Linked DNA regions of Homo sapiens: region 2 is linked to region 1. The links come from fine-mapping of genetic effects on gene expression. A gene starts in region 1. The other region holds a variant in brackets. All regions are shown on one strand. Distances are between the middles of the regions. Region 1 holds the start of LANCL1-AS1 (LANCL1 antisense RNA 1). Region 2 overlaps LANCL1-AS1 (LANCL1 antisense RNA 1).

The links. PIP is the estimated chance that this variant, and not a neighbour inherited with it, causes the effect.
Region 2: its variant is the best candidate, but not a certain one, in a credible set for the expression of LANCL1-AS1 in prefrontal cortex (BrainSeq, PIP 0.89).

What each region holds. Positions count from the first base shown.
Region 1 is chr2:210,319,791-210,329,877 of GRCh38, reverse strand. It overlaps LANCL1-AS1 (LANCL1 antisense RNA 1), which reads right to left and starts at 5,166. Exons shown (of 5, transcript NR_110606.1): 1 at 5,044-5,166.
Region 2 is chr2:210,400,167-210,410,253 of GRCh38, reverse strand. All of the region lies in intron 1 of LANCL1-AS1 (LANCL1 antisense RNA 1), which reads right to left. Among named protein-coding and RNA genes, the nearest start is that of LANCL1, 72 kb to the left of the region's middle. The variant AACAG/G (reference allele first, on the strand shown) is at 5,770.

The DNA.
Region 1 (10,087 bases):
AGTGGGAACTGAACATTGGATACACACAGATATAAAGATAGAAATAATACAATGAGGACTCCAAAGGGAAGTTGGGGTGATGGAAGGTTGAAAAACTCTCTATTGGGTACTATATTTACTATTCGGGTAACAAGATCAATAGAAACACAAACCTCATCATTATGCCATGTAATAAACCTGCACATTTACCCCATGGATCTAAAATTTTTAAAAATGGTAAGAGAAACTTTGGAAATTGTGCAAATACATGGAAAGCAAACAATAACAATATGCTCCTGAATGACCATTATTGGGTCAAAAAAGAAATGGAGGAAATAAAAAATAAAATGAATGAAATCAAAATACAAAATACCAAAACCTATGAGATACAGCAAAAGCAGTGCTATGAGGAAAGCTTGGAGCCATAAATACCTACATCAAAAAATAGTAAGATTTAAAATAAACAATCTAATGATGCACCTCAGGCAACTAGAAAAACAAGACCAAACCAAACCAAAATTAGAAGAAACAAAAATAAAGATCAGAGAAGAAAGAAATAAGATACAGAAAAAAACAAAGGATAAATGGAACAAAAAGTTGTTTTTTTCAAACAAATAAAAAATTAACTACTTGCTATACTAACCAAGGAAAAAAGTGAAAAGACAAACAAAGAAAACAGAAATGAGAAAGATATTACACCTGGTACCACAGAAATAAAATAGGTCAGAGACTATTTGAACAACTATAGATAAACAAACTGGAAAACCTAAAAGAAATGGATAAATTCCTAGACACATACAGTCTACCAAGACTGAATAAAAAAAATTAGAAAACCCAAATAGACCAACAACAAGTAATGAGATCAAAGCAGTAAAAAAAATTTCTCTAACAAAGAAAAGTCCAGGACCAGATGGCTTCACTGCTGAATTCTACCGAATTCAAAGAAAAACTAACACCAATTCTCCTCAAACTATTTCAAACATTGGAGAGGAAACAATTCTTTCTAATTCATTCTACAAGGCCAGAATTACCCTCAGGCTAAAATCAGATAAGAATGTAAAACAACCACTAAAAAAAACTGTAGGCTAATAGCCCTGATGAACATAGATGCACAATGCAAAAATCCTCAACAAAATACTAGCAAGGCAAATCCAACAGCACATCAAAAAAATAATACACCATGATCCCAGGTATTTATCCCAGTGATTCATGGGTTGCTCAACATATGCAAATCAATCAGTGTGACACCTCACATCAACAGAATGAAGAATAAAAACCATACAATTATTTCAATGAATGCAGAGAAAGTATTTGATAAATTTCAACATCCCTTCATGATAAAAACCTCAACAAAATAGGCATAGAAAAGATGTACCTCAACATAATGGAAGGCACATATGACAAACCCACAGCTAAGATCATACTAAATGAAGAAAAGGTGAAAGCCTTCCCTCTAAGAACTATAATAAAACAAGAATGCCCACTTTCACCACTCCTATTCAACATAGTACTAGAAATCCTCGTCAGAACAATCAGGCAAGAGAAAGAAATAAAAGGCACCCAAATTGGAAACGAGGAAGTGAAATTCTCTCTTTACCAATAATATAATTTTATGTCTAGGAAAACCTAAAGACTTCACCAAAAACGTTTTAGACCTCATAAATTCAATAAAGTTTCAGGATACAAAATCAATTTCAAAAATCAGTAGCATTTGTATACACAATAATGAAGTAGCTGAGAAAGAAATTAAGAATGCAATACCACTTATAATAGCTACAAGAAGATAATGAAATACCTAGGAATAAATTTAACTAAGATAAAAGACCTGTACAAGGAAAACTATAAAGTACTGGTGAAATAAATTGAAGAGAACACAAAAAAATGGAAATACATTTCATGCTCATGGATCAGAAGAATTAATATTGTTAAAATGGCCATGCTGCCCAAAGCAATCAACAGTTTCAATGGAATCCCTATCAAAATACCAATGTCATTTTTCACAGAATTAGAAAAAACAATCCTAAAATTTTCATGGGGCCAAGTAAGAGCCCAAAAACCAAAGCAACATGAACAAAAAGAACAAAGCTAGGGGCATCACCTTACCTGATTTTAATATATATTACAAGACTTTAACTAAAACAGCATAGTATTAGTATAAAAACAGTTACATAGACTAATGGAATAGAATGGAGAATCCAGGCCAGGTGCGATGGCTCATGCCTGTAATCCCAGAACTTTGGGAACCCGAGGCAGGCAGATCACTTAAGGCCAGGAGTTTGAGCTCAGTCTGGCCAACGTGGCAAAAACCCGTCTCTACTAAAAATACAAAAAATTAGCCAGGCATGGTGGTATGCACCTGTAATCCCAGCTACTCAGGAGGGAGAGGCAGGAGAATCGCTTAAACCTATGAGACGAAGGTTGCAGTGAGCTGAGATTTGCCTCTGTACTCCAGCCTGGGCAACAGAGCAAGACTCTCTCTCAGGAAAGAAAAAAAAAAATAGAGAATCCAGAAATAAATCCATGTATTTACAGCCTACTGATTTTTGACAAATGTGCCAAGAACATCCATTGGGGAAATGACAGTATCTTCAATTAATGGTGATGGGAAATTTGGATATCTACATGCAGAAGAATATAGGTATCTTCTATCTAAGCCCCTATCTTCACTACATCACATATTAATTCAAGGTACATTATAGACTTAAACACTTAAAACTATAAAACTACTAGAAGAAAACAGAGGGAAAACTCTTCAGTACATTGGTCCGGGCAAAGATCTTACACCTAAGACCTCAAAATCACAGGCAACAAAAACTAAAATAGACAAATGGTAGCATATTAAACCAAAAAGCTTCTGCATATCAAAAGAAACAACCAAGAGAGTGAAAAGACAACCTGTAAAATGGGAGAAAATATTTGTAAGCTATTCATCCAACAAGGCATTAATATCCAGAATATCAAGGAACTCAAACAATTCAACAACCAAAAAAAACCCCACAAATAATCATATTAAAAAGTGGGCAAAGGATATGAACAGATATTTCTGAAAGTAAGGCACACAAATGGCCATATACAAATGGTATATGAAAAAATACCCAACATCACTATGCATCAGAGAAATGCAAATGGAAACCACAATGAGATATCATCTTACTCCAGTTAGAATGGCTGTCATTAAAAAGATGAAAAATATCAGATTCTGGTGAGAATGCAGAGAAAAGGAAACTCTTAAACACTGTTGATGGGAAGGTAAATTAGTACAACCACTATGAAAAATAGTATGACGATTTCTTTAAAAACCAAAAAATAGAACTACCATACAATCCAGCAATCCTACTTCTGAGTATTTATCCAAAGGAAAAAGAAATCAGTACATGAATATGTGCACTTGCATGTTTATCTGAGCCCTTGTCACAATGGCAATAGGACAATAGCACTATCCAAACATCCATTTCTCTGTTGATAGACACTTAGGTAGAATCAATTCAGTAAACAATATAACCATGAGCACTGTCTCATGGAATTTATAGTCTAAGTGAGGACAATAATCAATAAATGATTCAATTATTATAAGCTATGAGTCCACCAAATGAAGTATTGCAATATGGGATGAGAGGAGTGGAACCTACTTTAGATAGGGTGATAAGTAAGACCCTTCTGAAGAGAGGACTTACTTCTAAGGTAAGACTTGAAAGGGAATAAAAACATTCATTCAAAGAAAGATTAGAAGAACAATTCAGGAAGAAAGAACAGCATATCATACTAAAGAATGAACTGAAGAAGGCCAGAATGTCTGTAGTCCAATATGTGAGGGGGAGAGTGGCAGGAGATGTTGCGGGAGCTCATCCATTTTTCATCAATATTCTAGGAAACATAAATCACTGGGAGAGGACACACTATGAAAATAACTCTACTCACACACCAGTCTGCTTTAGATAGGCCCTCTCCTTTACACCTAAATAAATATTTACAATTTGAGGGAAGAAATGGAATCAGCCTAAGCATAAGACATGAGGACTCAGAACTTGTTGGTTCCTCATCCTCCAAGCTCCAACCACAAGTTGTTTCTCCCTTTGCCAAGATATCTGGAATTTCCAGACTTGCAATATTAATGCACAGCCCTGTACATGGTCTTATATACCTATGATGACAGCCCAGTCATGAAGCTAGAGAAATGCAAAATAAGAAATTTTGCTAAAATTCTTTAGCAAAAGCTAAAGAATATGAAGACTAAATCTGAGGGAAACCCTAAGGTATATTGGATTTAACCATTATTGAAGACATAAAAAGGTTTAGTCAGAAAGTTTCTGGTGCTTCTCAAGGAATTAGTGACAGCTTTAGAGTGTGAAGACCACATTTCTTGAGTGTTCAGACTTAAAATTCTGTCTTTGTGTAAGACCTTTCAGACTCTGTTTGCTGAAGAAAGAGACTGAAATGTAAGACCTAGAAGTCATATTGTAACATTGCAGGCTAACCAGGTGTTGAGAGACCCCTTGCTATTTATTTAGCCATGTTGTAATGCCCTTTCCAATCCCAAATTCATTCTTGCTTCTAGAAGATTATTGAAGTGGGACTTGCGAGACATATAGTCTCTTTCAACAAACAGCAATATAATTCTTCCTTTACACATTCCAGGGAAGAAAAAAAAAATATCCTTTCCAGCTGGTACACAGGCTGTGATGCACTGGAACTACCTGAATCCTAACCGCCAAAAGGGCACCAGGGAGGATTTTAATATATGCAGTACGAGTGTGTCAAAAACAGCATCTTACGAGAGATTTAATCTGTTCATTTGAAAGAGTGCGGTACAAATGGTCCCGTGGGGCTCACCTCCAGGGCCGCCAACGATTTCACACTTGATGAGAATCAATATGTGTGCTTGGTCTTGACTACAAATATTTCATTAGAAGCTGAGAAAAGGGCCCCTGCTACCCCATTTTGCTTTCTTCCCGGCTTTACTGGTCCCAATTTCTTCCACGTCAGAAATGCCCATCACATTTCATATAAAAGAATGTATCCAGCAAATTAAAAAGCTAGAGACCTCAAGTTGAAATTAATACTTACAGGGTAACAGGTGTCTCACATTTTAAAAATCCTGGCACTGGTTTACAGCAGCATAAGAGTGCCCTTTGTGCTGTTTCCTCCTCTAGCAGAACTGCTCCAAACACAAGGACTGAGGCCGCCAGTCTCTCAAGAATGCCTAACGTGCCATAGGGTGGCCTCCTGGAGACATGAATACTCTCTTGGGCCCGAATTAGAAAACCTTGACCAGGACAAGTAGAAGCAAATGCACTGTCAGCCATGGGCTATTCTTATCCCTGCAGTTGTTGCCCATCTTCAAAATGGAGACAGCGAGACTCATGCTGTCTGAAGACCCTAAGACAGGCTTGACACAGGGTCCCTCTGTTTTTTTTATCCCACCCAATGTCATTCATTTTACTTTGGAAGGCAGTATTATTTCTTCTCCCTATCAAACTTTGTATTAAAGCATAACATACATTTGGAAAAATGCAGAAATCTTAAGTGTACAACTTGATGAATTATCACAAAGTGAACAAATTCATGTAACCACCAGCTCCTTCAACAAATTCATGTAAACACCAGCTCCTTCACTACCTGACCTTCCTCTCCACTACCCAACACTCCTCTCTACTACTATCCTGTCTTCGAATACCATCAGGTAGTTTCTCTTGGTCTTGAACTTTATATAAATGGAACCATAACACTGTGTGACACTGATCTATCTTATTACATGTACCTGTAGTTTGTTCATTCTTATTGCTGTGTAGTGTTCCATCACAAGGATATATGATATTCTATCCATTTTATTGCTAATGGGCATTTGGGTTGTTTCCAGTTTTGTGCAATTATGAATATCATTGCTAAAAATGTTTATGTACATTTTTTTTGAGACAGAGTCTTGCTCTTGTTGCCCAGGCTGGAGTGCAATGGTGTGATCTCAGCTCACTGTGACTTCTGCCTCCCGGGTTCAAGCAATTCTCCTGCCTCAGCCTCCCAAGTAGCTGGGATTATAGGTGCCCACCACCACACCTCGCTAAATTTTTGTATTTTTAATAGAGACAGGGTTTTGCCATGTTGGTCAGGCTGACCTCGAACTCCTGACCTCAGGTGATCCACCCACCTCAGCCTCCCAAAGTGCTGGGATTACAGGCGTGAGCCACCGTGCCCAACCTATGTACATCTTTATGCATATACATACACATTTGTGGGGGACACATGACTATGAGTGAAATTGTTGGCTTTTAAGATATGCACATGTTTAGTATTTATTCTTGGCCTTTTTGTCCTGGAGGGTGCTTTCCACTTAATTTCCCAGAAAAATATCAGCTGCCAAAATCTCTTTTGCCAGTTTGTTCTTGGAACTATGCTAAATATTGTAGGATGATGGTGAGTTAATGGGCAGTCATTGCCCTTGGACATTTATGCTCTCAATTCCTTCTCAGGAGGCAACCAAGAAGGATTTCTGATCAATAGTCTGACCATTCGGTTACTGTTTTCTTACTGCCACAGCCCCTTTTCTTGAGGTAGTCTCTGCATCGTGTGCCCTTTCTTGCCATGGTCTGGGATTTTCTGTCCCTTTCATACTCCCTCTCTCTTGCCAGAATCACATACTACAGCATCAGAATTACCCAGTGAAGCAATCTCTGAGCAATTTTAATCACTATAAATGTCCTTCCTTGAGAAATCCTACACCCCCACCTCCAGGGGAAGCAGCATGTTAACCATGTAAAGAATCACGCTGACTCAATTTCTACATGACTTACTATCTGCTTCATAAAACAAGATTCCGGAGCACTGGTTCCAGCTTGGCCCTGGATATATCATGACCTCTAACAAGGTAACTCTGAGAGCAAAAGAAGAAAAATACCAGTCTTCACTTACACAAGTATTGGATTTATTAACTGTTAAAGAAACAATACTAGTTAAAAACTTAGTGACGAAAGGAGTGTAAACATTTTAAAAAATCATCTTTATTATCCAGTCCCAGTCCTTTATCAAGTTTGCACTTAAACACCCATTTATTCTTAAAAGGAAACAGTTTACATTTTAAAATATTTTTGGAGTACCTCATAATCCCCAGTTAGAAAGTTATTTATTTTTAACCGAAAATTATTTCACTCATCCCTGTTAGTTTCATATAAAGAACAGCTGACGACTATTCTCTTAATAGCAACATTTTATTAATTAAAATTGCTTTTAAGCCACCTTTTTCTTCCTTCAACTAAGTACTGCCAAAGCCATTAACTTTTCAGAATGGGTTCTAATAGTCAATTTTGTTCATCCTCATTCTCTCTTCTAACTATTCAAATATTCAAATTCTTTCTCTTGCTCAGATTTTGGGGCTCCAAACTGTCTTGAATCATTTAAGTATATCTGCCAACACCAAAACCCGTAACATTCTTTCATTCATTTATTCATCCATTCCATTAAAAAAATGTTTTCAGCTTACTGTGAGTTGGGAGCTGGAGAGTCATTGGAGAACAAGAAAGATGAGTCCCTGATCTGATAAAGCTCACTTCCTAAATGTATTAGAAAACAAATAAAAATTCAAAAATTATAAAGTCCATGAGAATAATAAAAACAGATGCTAGACTAAGTAATAACCAGAGGAGGGGTTACTTAATATAGCATGATTCCATTAGGTCTTTCAGAGAAAGTAACATCTGGATTAAAATCGAAGTGATCTTAGGTAGTAGCCATGAAAGAATATATAGAAAAAGTGTTCTGAGAAAATAGTACAGCAATGTCAGGCCCTTAGGAGAGAAGGTCAGAATGGCCAGAATATAACCAAAAAGGTGGAGAGAACTCTGAGAGGAGTTCAGGGAGACAGGTGGAGACTAGATCAAATCCAGCCTTGTTGGCCATTGTTAGGAGTTCATCTTGTAAGTTCCAAATGTGATGATTCCATTAATGAATAATGACATACATAAACTTTTCTCAGATAAGTGCTAGGCTTATGATCAGTTATTGTGCATTCTTCCAATTTGTGATTTACAGTATACCCAAGATCTCCCTGCCTTTGGCATTGCTAACATTCCAGTAATTCTTTTGCTTCTTTGAGGCCCTCTTCTTCTGAAACATAACCTTCAGTTGGATCTTTTTTTTAAAATTTATTTTTGAGACAGAGTCTCACCCTGTCACCCAGGATGGAGTACAATGGTGCAATCTCAGCTCACTGCAACCTCTGCTTCCTGGGTTCAAATGATTCTCCTGCCTCAGCCTCCAAAGTAGCTGGGATTACAGGCACCTGCCACCACGCCCAACTAATTTTTCATATTTTAGTAGAAACAGGGTTTCACCATGTTAGCCAGGCTGGTCTCAAACTCCTGACCTCATGATCCACCTGCCTTGGCCTCCTAAAGTGCTGGGATTACAGGCATAAGCCACTGTGCCTGGCTGGATCATTTTTTTTTAACAAGGCAAAATTTAATTCTACTACAACTGAATAGCTGAGGTGTGATCCTTGTTGTTTTTCACATGTCATTATCCTTCCCTTAGTCATTAGGAAGCAGTAGGGTTTAGATTTCATTAAAACCGGGTTCTACTTCTGTTTTTGACACTTTTTTTTGTTTTATGGGTGTTTTTGTTTGTTTTTTGAGACAGGGTCTCACTCTGTTGCCCAGGCTAGACTGCAGTGGAACAATCGTGACTCACTGCAGCCTCCAACTCCTAAGCTCAAGCGATCCTCTTGCCTCAGCCTCCCTTCAAGTAGCTGGGACTATGGGTGTGCACACCACGGCTGGCTTGTTTTTAACACTTTTACTGTGGGTAACTAGCATGTAACTTTACCTCTGAGTCTTTTTATCCATAAAGTGAAATAATACCTACCTCAGAATTGTTGTGGGGATTAAAGGACATGGAATACGTTAACCCTCAACAGATGGCCACTAATAATATACTTTTCAAAAAGCAAAAACCATAGAACTTTGCAGTAAAAATGAGATGCTGGGATCTTACCCTATCCATTCCTCTAATTTTGTATTTAAGCCTCTCTGAAGCTAAAATAATTGTCAGTAGTCACACAGCTAGTAGCTAGACGTAAACCAGATCTCACTAAATCAATATACTAATAGAAAAATAATTCAACCACCTACTATTTGCTTTAGCTTTGAGGTTGGGCTTTATGAACTCCATAATTATTCTCTGAATCAATCACAAATGCAGCCTGATTCTTGAGGCAAGTTGAAATTGGAAAAATGTGTGGTCTAATAAATGCTACTTATTAGGGCTTGGGAGATTCAGAACCATGAACTCTACTTTTTACTCAATTTGTTAAGGGGGAAAAAGCCAATAAGAAGACATAGTTTCTATATAGATCTCATCCACCAAATGTGGATTGTGACTTACAGACAGCTCAGGGGAGGAAATAAACCTTAGCTGACCGAAGAACTTTGGTAAGCAAATTATTGGAGATAGTGGATGTGTCAACTTAGGGCCCAAATCTAGAGGAGGAACTGTGGTGTCGTTAAATAATGTGAAAGCCACTTACTTCAACTGCTTACTATTGGAAAGTTTTCAAGTAGATATCATACACACATGAACTGATTTATGTAAATGTAAGGGGAAAAAATCCTGAGTCTTAATTGAAGGTTTGACAAGTTGGCTTTTACATATGGTTGTGCTCATATTTAATCTTTATTGTTGGCTTTTTAACTTTTTTATTTTATTATTTATTTATTGTATAAGCAAAGTGTAGTCACAGAAGAAAAATAAAAATATAGATTAGCAAATAAAATTAACTCATAATTCTACCACTCAGAAATAACTATTAACACAAGTATGCACACACAGACACACACATGTTAATTCACACACTTAAATTCTTATTTTGCTCTATGACAAAGTGAATTAATACAAGCCTTTAAACCTAATATAGTACCTCATTATATCAAAAAAACTCACAAAAATGAAAAAGCCATTTCATACTACAAACTTCAAAATTTCACAATTATTGTGCTAAGTACTTAATTACCCAGCATTCCCTTTTCTTCAGGAATGTATAAAGGCCTTATGGCAACAAATTCAATTCTAATTCAACAAGACTTTATTAAACACTTTTAATTGTTCCAATATTTAAGAAAATATA
Region 2 (10,087 bases), 80 kb before region 1:
ATTATACCCTGCCTGTGCTCTGTGAATGGAACAACAAAGCTTGGATGACAGCACATCTGTTTACAGCACAGTTTACTGAATATTTTAAGCCCACTATTGAGATCTGCTGATCAGGAAAAAAAAAGATTTATTTTATAAGATTACTGCTCACTGACAATGTACTTGGTCACCCAAGTGCTCTGACGGAGAGGTACAGGAGATTAATGGTTTCATGCCTGCTAACACAACATTCTTTCTGCAGCCTGTGGATCAAGGAGTAATTTTGACTTTCAAGACTTATGACTTAAGAAATACATTTTGTAAGGCCATAGCTGCCATAGATTGTGATTTGTGTGATGATCTGGTCAAAGTAAACTGAAAACCTCAGAAAAGGAGCCAGCATTCTAGATGCCATTTAGGAACATTTATGATTCATGGGAGGGGTGAAAATATCAACACTAACAGGAGTTTAGAACTTAATGTAATCTCATGGATAACTGAGGCATTCAAGACTTCAGTGGAGGAGATTACTGCAAATGTGATAGAAACAGTAAGAGATCTAGAAAGAAATGGACCCTGAAAATATGACTAAATTGCTGCTATCTCATGATAGAACTTGGATGGATGAGCAGTTGCTTTCTATGAATGAGCAAGGAAAGTGGTTTCTTAAGATGAAAGCTCTCCTGATGAAGACGCTATGAACATCGTTGAAATGAACATCGTTGAAACGACAACAAAACAATTAGAATGTTAAATAAATTTAGTTGATGGAGCAGCAGCAGGATTTGAGAGGACTGACTCTGATTTTGAAAGAAGTTCTACTGTGAGTAAAATGCTATCACATGCAAACAGCATCACATGATGCAAAGAAATCTGTCATGAAAGGAAGAGTCAATTGATGTGGCAAACTTCATTGTTGTCTCATCTTAAGAAATTGCCACAGCCACCCAACCTTCAGCAACCACCACACTGATCAGCCAGCAGCCATCAAGATTGAGGTAAAACCCTCCACCAGCAAAAAACTCAGATAATTATTATGATTTTTTTCAGCAATACAGTATTTTTGAATTAAGATATGTACTTTTTGAAGACATAATGTTATTGCTCACTTAATATACTACAGTATAGTATAAACATAACTTTTATATGTACTGGGAAACCAAAAAACTTGTGTGACTCACTTTATTGCAATACTTCATTGCAGTGTTCAGTAACCAAACCTGCAATATCTTCAAGGTATGTTTGTATATAATAAGGGGTGTCTTAGTCTGTTTGGGCTACTGTAACAAAATATCTTAGACTGGGTAATTTATAAACAACAATTTTATTGCTCTTAGTTTTGGATGCTAGAAAGTCCTAGATCAAGATACCAGCAGATTCTGTGTCTGATGAGGGCTCTCTCTCTGCTTCAAAGATGGTGCCTTCTTGCTGCATCCTCACATGGCAGAAGAGGCAAATGAGCTCCCTCAGTTGGTCCTATAAAGGCACCAGTTCCAGTGATGAGAGCTATGCCCTCATGACCTAGTCACCTCCCAAAGGTTCTACCTCTTAATACAAACACATTGAGGATTAGATTTTAACATATGAATTTTAAAAGGACACAAAATTCAGACAATAGCAAGGGGTTAATATCTAAAGCATGTAATGAGCTCCTATAACTCAATAGCAAAAAATATATATAATTAAAATGGGCAAAGTACCTGAATAGACACTTCTCTAAAGATGACATACAAATGTTCAACAAGTATATGAAAAGATGCTCAACATCACGAATCATCAGAAAAATGCAAATCAAAATTACAATGAGGTAACATATCATACCTGCTAGGATGACCATTATTAAAAACAAAAAATACAAAAAAAAATACAGAAAATAACACGTGTCGGCAAGGATGTGGACAAATTGGAATGCTTTCACATGGTTAATGCAAATCTAAAATGGTGTAGCCATTATGGAAAACAGTATGGAGTTTCTTCTAAAAATGAAAAACAGAACCACCATGTAATTCAGGAATACCACTTCTGGATATTTTTCCAAGAGAACTGAAATCAGAATCTCAAAGAGATATCTGTCCTCTCATGTTTATTGGAACATTATTCACAGTAGCCAAGTGGTATAATCTATCCATGGATAAATGGATAAAGAAAATGTGGTATGTACATACAATAGAATATTATCAGCCATAAAAAAGGAGGAAATTCTGACATATGCTACAACCTGTATGAACTTTGAGGACATTACACTAGGTGAAATAAGCCCATCACAGAAGGATAAATACTTCATGATTCCACTTATATGAGATACCTAAAATAGTCAAATGCATAATAGCAGAAAGAAGAATGATGGTTTCTAGGGGCTGGGGGAAGGGGAAAAATGGGAAGTTCAATGAGTATAGAGTTTCAGTCATGCAAGATGAAAAAATTCTAGACATCTGCTATACCATATTGTACTTAACAATATTGTACCTTACATTTAAATATCACTTCACCACTTTGAGCTTCACAATACTTGCCATACATTGAGAATTTTGTGCCAGATTGGTCATTTTCAAGCTCAAGTCTGAAGCAGTTCTGAAAATGTTATATTAAATTTCATTATTAAAAGTGGATTTTTGAGACTGCTGGCAAGATGGCCAAATAGGAACAGCTCTGGTCTGCAGCTCCCAGAGAGACTGATGCACAAGGCAGGTGATTTCTGCATTTCCACTTGAGGTACCCGGTTCATCTCATTGGGACTGGTTAGACAGTGGGTGCAGCCTGTGGAGGACAAACCAAAGCAGATGGGGTGTCGCCTCACCCGGGAAGCACAAGGGGTCAGGGAATTCTCTCCCCTACCCAAGGGAAACCATGAAGGACTGTGCCTGAGGAATGGTGCACTCCAGCCCAGATAGTGCACTTTTCCCACAGTCTTCGCAACCCACACACCAGGAGATTCCCTCCAGTGCCTACACCACCAGGGCCCTGGGTTTCAAGCACAAAACTGGGCATCCATTTGGGCAGACACTGAGCTAGCTGCAGGAGTTATTTTTTTTTCCATACCCCAGTGGTGCCTGGAATGCCAGTGAGACAGAACCATTCACTCCCCTGGAAAGGGGGCTGAAGCCAGGGAGCCAAGTGGTATGGCTTGGTGGGTCCCACCCCAAGGAGGCCAGCAAGCTAAGATCCACAGGCTTGAAATTCTCGCTGCCAGCACAACAGTCAGGTTGACCTGGGACACTCGAGCTTGGTGGGAAGAGGGGCGTCTGCCATTGCTGAGGCTTGAGGAGGTGGTTTTACCCTCACAGTGTAAACAAAGCCATGGGGAAGTTCAAACTGGGCAGAGCCTACTGTAGCTCAGCAAGGCCACTGTGGCCAGACTGCCTCTCTAGATTACTCCTCTCTGGGCAGGGCATCTCTGAAAAAAGGGCAGCAGCCCCAGTCAGGGACTTATAAAAACCCTCATCTCCCTGGGACAGAGCACCTGGGGGAAGGGGTGGCTGTGGGTGCAGCTTCAGCAGACTTAAACATCCCTGCCTGAAGGCTATGAAGAGAGCAGTGGATCTCCCAGCACAGTGTTCGAGCTCTGCTAAGGGTCAGACTGCCTCCTCAGGTGGGTCCCTGACTGGGAGACACCTCCCAGTAGGGGCTGAGAGACATCTCATACAGGAGAGCCCTGGCTGGCATCTGGTGGATGCCCTTCTGGGACAAAGCTCCCAGAGGAAAGAACAGGCAGCAATCTTTGCTGTTCTGCAGCCTTCACTGGTGATACCTAGAAAAACAGGGTCTGGAGTGGACCTCCAGCAAACTCCAACAGACCTGAAGCAGACGGGCCTGTTAGAAGGAAAACTAACAAACAGAAAGGAATAGCACATCCACTCAGAGGCCCCATACGAAGGTCACCAATATCAAAGACCAAAGGTAGATAAATCCAAAAAGATGGGGAGAAACCAGTGCAAAAAGGCTGAAAATTCCAAAAACCAGAAAGCCTCTTCTCCTCCAAAGGATCACAACTCCTCACCAGCAAGGGAAAAAAAACTGGATGGAAAATGAGTTTGATGAATTGACAGAAGCAGGTTTTGGAAGGCGGGTAGTAACAAACCCCTTTGAGCTAAAGGAACATGTTCTAACCCAACGCAAGGAAGCTAAGAACCTCAAAAAAAAAGTTAGATGAATTGCAAACTAGAATAACCAGTTTAAAGAATGTAAATGACCTGATGGAGCTGAAAAACACAGCACGAGAACTTTGTAAAGCATACACAAGTATCAATAGCCAAATCAATCAAGAGGAAGAAAGGATATCAGAGATTGAAGATGAACTTAATGATATAAAGTGAGAAGATTAGAAAAAAAAAAAGAATGAAAAGGAACAAACAAACCCTTCAAGAAATATCAGACTATGTGAAAAGACAAAATCCACATTTGATTGGTGTACCTGACAGTGATGGGGATAATGAAACCAAGTTGGAAAACACTCTTCAGGATATTATCCAGGAGAACTTCCCCAACCTAGCAAGATGGGCCAACATTCAAATTTTAAAAATACAGAGAACACCACAAAGATACTACTCGAGAAGAGCAATCCCAAGACACATAATTGTCAGATCCACCAAGGTTGAAATGAAGGAAAAAATGTTAAGGGCAGCCAGAGAGAAAGGTCAGGTTACCCACAAAGGGAAGCCCATCAGACTAACATCAGGTCTCTCGGCTGAAACCCTACAAGCCAGAAGGGAGTGGGGGCCAATATTCAACATTCTTAAAAGAATTTTCAACACAGAATTTCATATCCAGCCAAACTAGGCTTCATAAGCAAAGGAGAAATAAAATCCTTTACAGACAAGCAAATGCTGAGAGATTTTGTCACCACCAGGCCTGCATTACAAGAGCTCCTGAAGGAAGCACTAAATATGGAAAGGAACAACCAGTAACGGCTACTGCAAAAACATGCCAAATTGTAAAGACCATCAATGCTATGAAGAAACAGCATCAGAAACGGAAAAAATAACCAGCTACCATCATAATGATAGGATCAAATTCACACATAACAATATTAACTTTAATTGTAAATGGGCTAAATGCCCCAATTAGAAGACACAGACTGGCAAATTGGAAAAAGAGTCAAGACCCATCGGTGTGCTGTATTCAGGAGACATATCTCATGTGCAAAGACACACATAGGTTCAAAATAAAGGGATGGAGGAATATTTACCAAGCAAATGGAAACCAAAAAAAAGCAAAAAGCAGGGGTTGTAATCCTAGTCTCTGAAAAAACAGATTTTAAACCAACAAAGATCAAAAGAGACAAAGAACGGCATTACATAATGGTAAAGGGATCAATGCAACAAGAAGAGCTAATATATATATATATATATATATATATATATATATATATATATATATAACAAGAAATAAATATAGTTATATATGTATAGTTATTTCTTGTTAACTATATATAGTTATTTCTTGTTTATATATATATATATATTAGCTCTTCTTGTTGCATATATATATATATATATATATATTCTTAGAGACCTGCAAAGAGACTTAGACTCCCACACAATAATAGTGAGAGACTTTAACACCCCACTGTCAACATTAGACAGATCAACGAGACAGAAAATTAACATGAATATTTAGGACTTGAACTGAGCTCTGGACCAAGCAGATCTAATAGACATCTACAGAACTCTCCACCCCAAATCAACAGCCTATACATTCTTCTCAGCGCCTCATTGCACTTATTCTAAACTTGACCACATAGATTGAAGTAAAACACTCCTCAGCAAATGCAATCAAATGGATATCATAACA[AACAG/G]TCTCTCAGACCACAGTGCAATCAAATTAGAACTCAGGATTAAGAAATTCACTCAAAACCACACAACTACAAGGAAACTGAACAATCTGCTCCTAAGTGACTACTGGGTAAATAACAAAATTAAGACAGAAATAAAGATGTTCTTTGAAACCAAAAAGAACAAAGATACAATGTACTAGAATCTCTGGGACATATTTAAAGCAGTGTGTAGAGGGAAATTTATAGCACTAAATGCCCACAAAAGAAAGCAGGAAATATCTAAAATTGACACACTAACATCACAATTAAAACAACTAGAGAAGCAAGAACAAACAAATTCAAAAGCCAGCAGAAGACAAGAAATAACTAAGATCAGAGCAGAACTGAAGGAGATAGAGACACAAAAACCCTACAAAAAAAATCAATGAATCCGGGAGCTGGTTTTTTGAAAAGATCAACAAAATAGATAGACCACTAGCAAGACTAATAAGAAAAGAGAGAAGAATCAAATAGACACACTGAAAAATGAAAAAGGGGATATCACCATTGATCACACAGAAATATAAACTACCATCAGAGAATACTATAAACACCTCTATGCAAATAAACTAAAAAATCTAGAAGAAATGGAAAATTCCTGAACACATACACCCTCCTAAGTCTAAACCAGGAAGAAGTCGAATCCCTGAATAAACCAATAACAAGTTCTGAAACTGAAGCAGTAATTAACACCCTACCAACCAAAAAAAGTCCAGGACCTGACGGATTCACAGCCGACTTCTACCAGAGGTACAAAGAGGAGCTGGTACTATTCCTTCTGAAACTATTCCAAACAATAGAAAAAGAGGGACTCTTCCCTAACTCATTTTATGAGGCCAGCATCATCCTCATACCAAAACCTGGCAGAGACACAACAAAAAAAGAAAATGTCAGGCCAATATCCCTGAGGAACATCGATGAAAAAATTCTCAATAAAATACTGGCAAACCAAATCCAGCAGCACATCAAAAAGCTTATCCACCATGATTACGTTGGCTTCATATCTGGGATGCAAGGCTGGTTCAATACACACAAATCAATAAATGTAATCCATCACATACAGAGAACCAATGACAAAAACCACATGATTATCTCAATAGATGCAGAAAAGGCCTTCGACAAAATTCAATGCTCCTTCATGCTAATAAACAGAGTATTCGAATAGGAAGAGAGGAAGTCAAATTGTCTCTGTTTGCAGATGACATGATTTTATATTTAGAAAACCCCACCATCTCAGCCCAACATCTCCTTAAGCTGATAAGCAAATTCAGCAAAGTCTCAGGACACAAAATCAATGTGCAAAAATCACAAGCACCCTTATGCATCAATAACAGACGAACAGAGAGCCAAATTATGAGTGAACTCCCATTCACAATTGTTACAAAGAGAATAAAATACCTAGGAATACAACTTACAAGGGATGTGAAGGACCTCTTCAAGGAGAACTACAAATCACTGCTCAAGGAAATAAGAGAGGACACAAACAAATGGAAAAACATCCCATGCTCAAGGATAGGAAGAATCAATATCATGAAAATGGCCATACTGCCCAAAGTAATTTCTAGAGTCAATGCTATCCCCATCAAGCTACCATTGACTTTCTTCACAGAATTAGAAAAAACTACTTTAAACTTCATATGGAAATGAAAAAGAGCCCACATAGCCAAGACAATCCTAAGCAAAAAGAACAAAGCTGGAGGTTTCATGATACCTGACTTCAAACAATACTACAAGGCTACAGTAACCAAAACACCATGATACTGGTACCAAAAGAGATATATAGACTACTAGAACAGAACAGAGGCCTCAGAAATAACACCATACATCTACAACCATCTGATCTTTGACAAACCTGACAAAAACAAGCAATGGGGAAAGGACTTCCTATTTAATAAATGGTGTTGGGATAACTGGCCAGCCATATGCAGAAAACTGAAACTGGACCCCTTCCATACACCTTATAGAAAAATTAACTCAAGATAGATTAAAGACTTAAATGTAAGACCTAAAATCATACAAATCCTAAAAGAAAACCTAGGCAATACCATTCAGGACATAGGCATGGGCAAAGACTTCATGTCTAAAACACCAAAATCAATGGCAACAAAAGCCAAAATTGACAAATGGGATCTAATTAAAGTAAAGAGCTTCTGCACAGCAGAAGAAACTATCATCAGAGTGAACAGGCAACCTACAGACTGGGAGAAATTTTTTGCAATCTATCTATCTGACAAAAGGGCTAATACCCAGAATCTACAAGGAACTTCAACAAATTCACAAGAGAAAAACAACCCCATCAAAAAGTGGGTGAAGGCTATGAAGAGACACTTTTCAGAAGAAGACATTTATGTAGTCAAGAAAAAAACATATGGAAAAAAGCTCATCATCACTGGTCATTAGAAAAATGCAAATCAAAACCTCAGTGAGATACCATCTCACACCAATTAGAAGCTATTTATAAACTAGTGTAAAACACAGATTCCAATGTATCGTGTATCAAATTGCAATCATTAAAAACTCAGGAAACAACAGATGCTGGAGAGGATGTGGAGAAATAGAAACGCTTTTACACTGTTGGTGGGAGTGTAAATTAGTTCAACCATTGTGGAAGACAGTGTGGCGATTCCTCAAGGATCTGGAACAAGAAATACCGTTTGACCCAGCAATCCCATTACTGGGTATATACCCAAAGGATTATAAATCATTCTACTATAGACACATGCACACGTATGTTTATTGCAGTACTATTCACAATAGCAAAGACTTGGAACTAACTCAAATGTCTATCAATGATGGACTGGATAAGGAAAATGTGGCACATACAAACCATGGAATACTATGCAGCCAATGGAAAGGATGAGTTCACATCCTTTGCAGGGACATGGATGAAGCTGGAAACTATCATTCTCAGCAAACTAACACAAGAACAGAAAACCAAACAGCACATGTTCTCACTCATAATTGGGAGCTGAACAATGAGAACATATGGACACAGAGAGGGGAGCATCACCGGGGACACAGAGAGGGGAACAATGAGAACATATGGACACCGGGGCCTGTCAAGAGGTGAGGGTCTAGGGGAGGGATAGCATTAGGAGAAATACCTAATGTAGGTGACAGGTTGATAGGTGCAGAAAATCACTAAGACACGTGTATACCTATGTAAAAAAACTGCACGTTCTGCTCATGTACCCCAGAACTTAAAGTATAATAAAAAATAAATAAATAAAAGTGGATTTTAAGCTATTTATAAACCAGGGTAAAACACAGATTCCAATGTATCATGTATCAAATACTAGCATCTTAGGTAACTTCAATGCTTTAACTTGAGTTAAAATAAGATTTTAAAATAAGAAAATAATATTACTTTGAATAACAGGAGTTGCTTTCACATTTTATTGAGGCATACTAGAAGACCTTCTGTAGGTTTGGCTTTGATGGATTTTCTTCTGTTTCCTTAAAAAAGCCAAATTCATCATCTTTTCTATTTCCCACTCCTCTATGTTGTCCCTTCATCTGAACTTCCTAAGACAATTAATAGTATTACCAAATACCTGGGTGTTCAAGGCAAAAAAAGTTGCATATTATCTCAGACCATTGGTTTTCAAAATGCAGTGTGGAACAGCAACATAAATTTTTATTACCGAGAACTTGACAGAAATGCACATTCTAGGGTCCAATCAAGACCTGCTAAGTCAAAAACTCTGGAGGCAGGGAATAGCAATATGCCTTAACAAATCCTCCAAGTGATTGTGATGTTGGTCAAGTTTGAAAACCACTGTTTCAATATCAATCATCCCTTTATTCCAATTCGATCTATAGTCAGTCAATCAGTCATACTTCTGTTCTTTTGCTCATGACTTCTCCTCTCCGTAACTGTAGTACACCCTCCCTTTGAGAGCATGCACATCCCAACCCCTTTTCTGCTCAGCTTCTGTCTTAGCTCAATTAAAAGGCAATTAAAAGATCATCATAATCTCTCCCCACGTTACCTCAAGTACATTAAAAGTGCATGTACATTTCACTTTAATTTTTCTATTAAAATTTTAATAAATTTTTAAAAGATTGTTATGCTTTTTCTTTTGACAATATTTGGCTACAAATATTGTTTAATGGTTTTAATAATTGGCTGTGATTTTTTAGAACTCATCACACATAACCAGGAATTCCTGAGAAGTGAAGGTGTCTAACCTAAAATTCATGAATACTCAGTTTTAAAAATAGAGAAGTTAACATTATATTTTCTATAGACATTTAATTTGAAATTTGGTAATCTTAATTTTCTGTTGTTGTGTT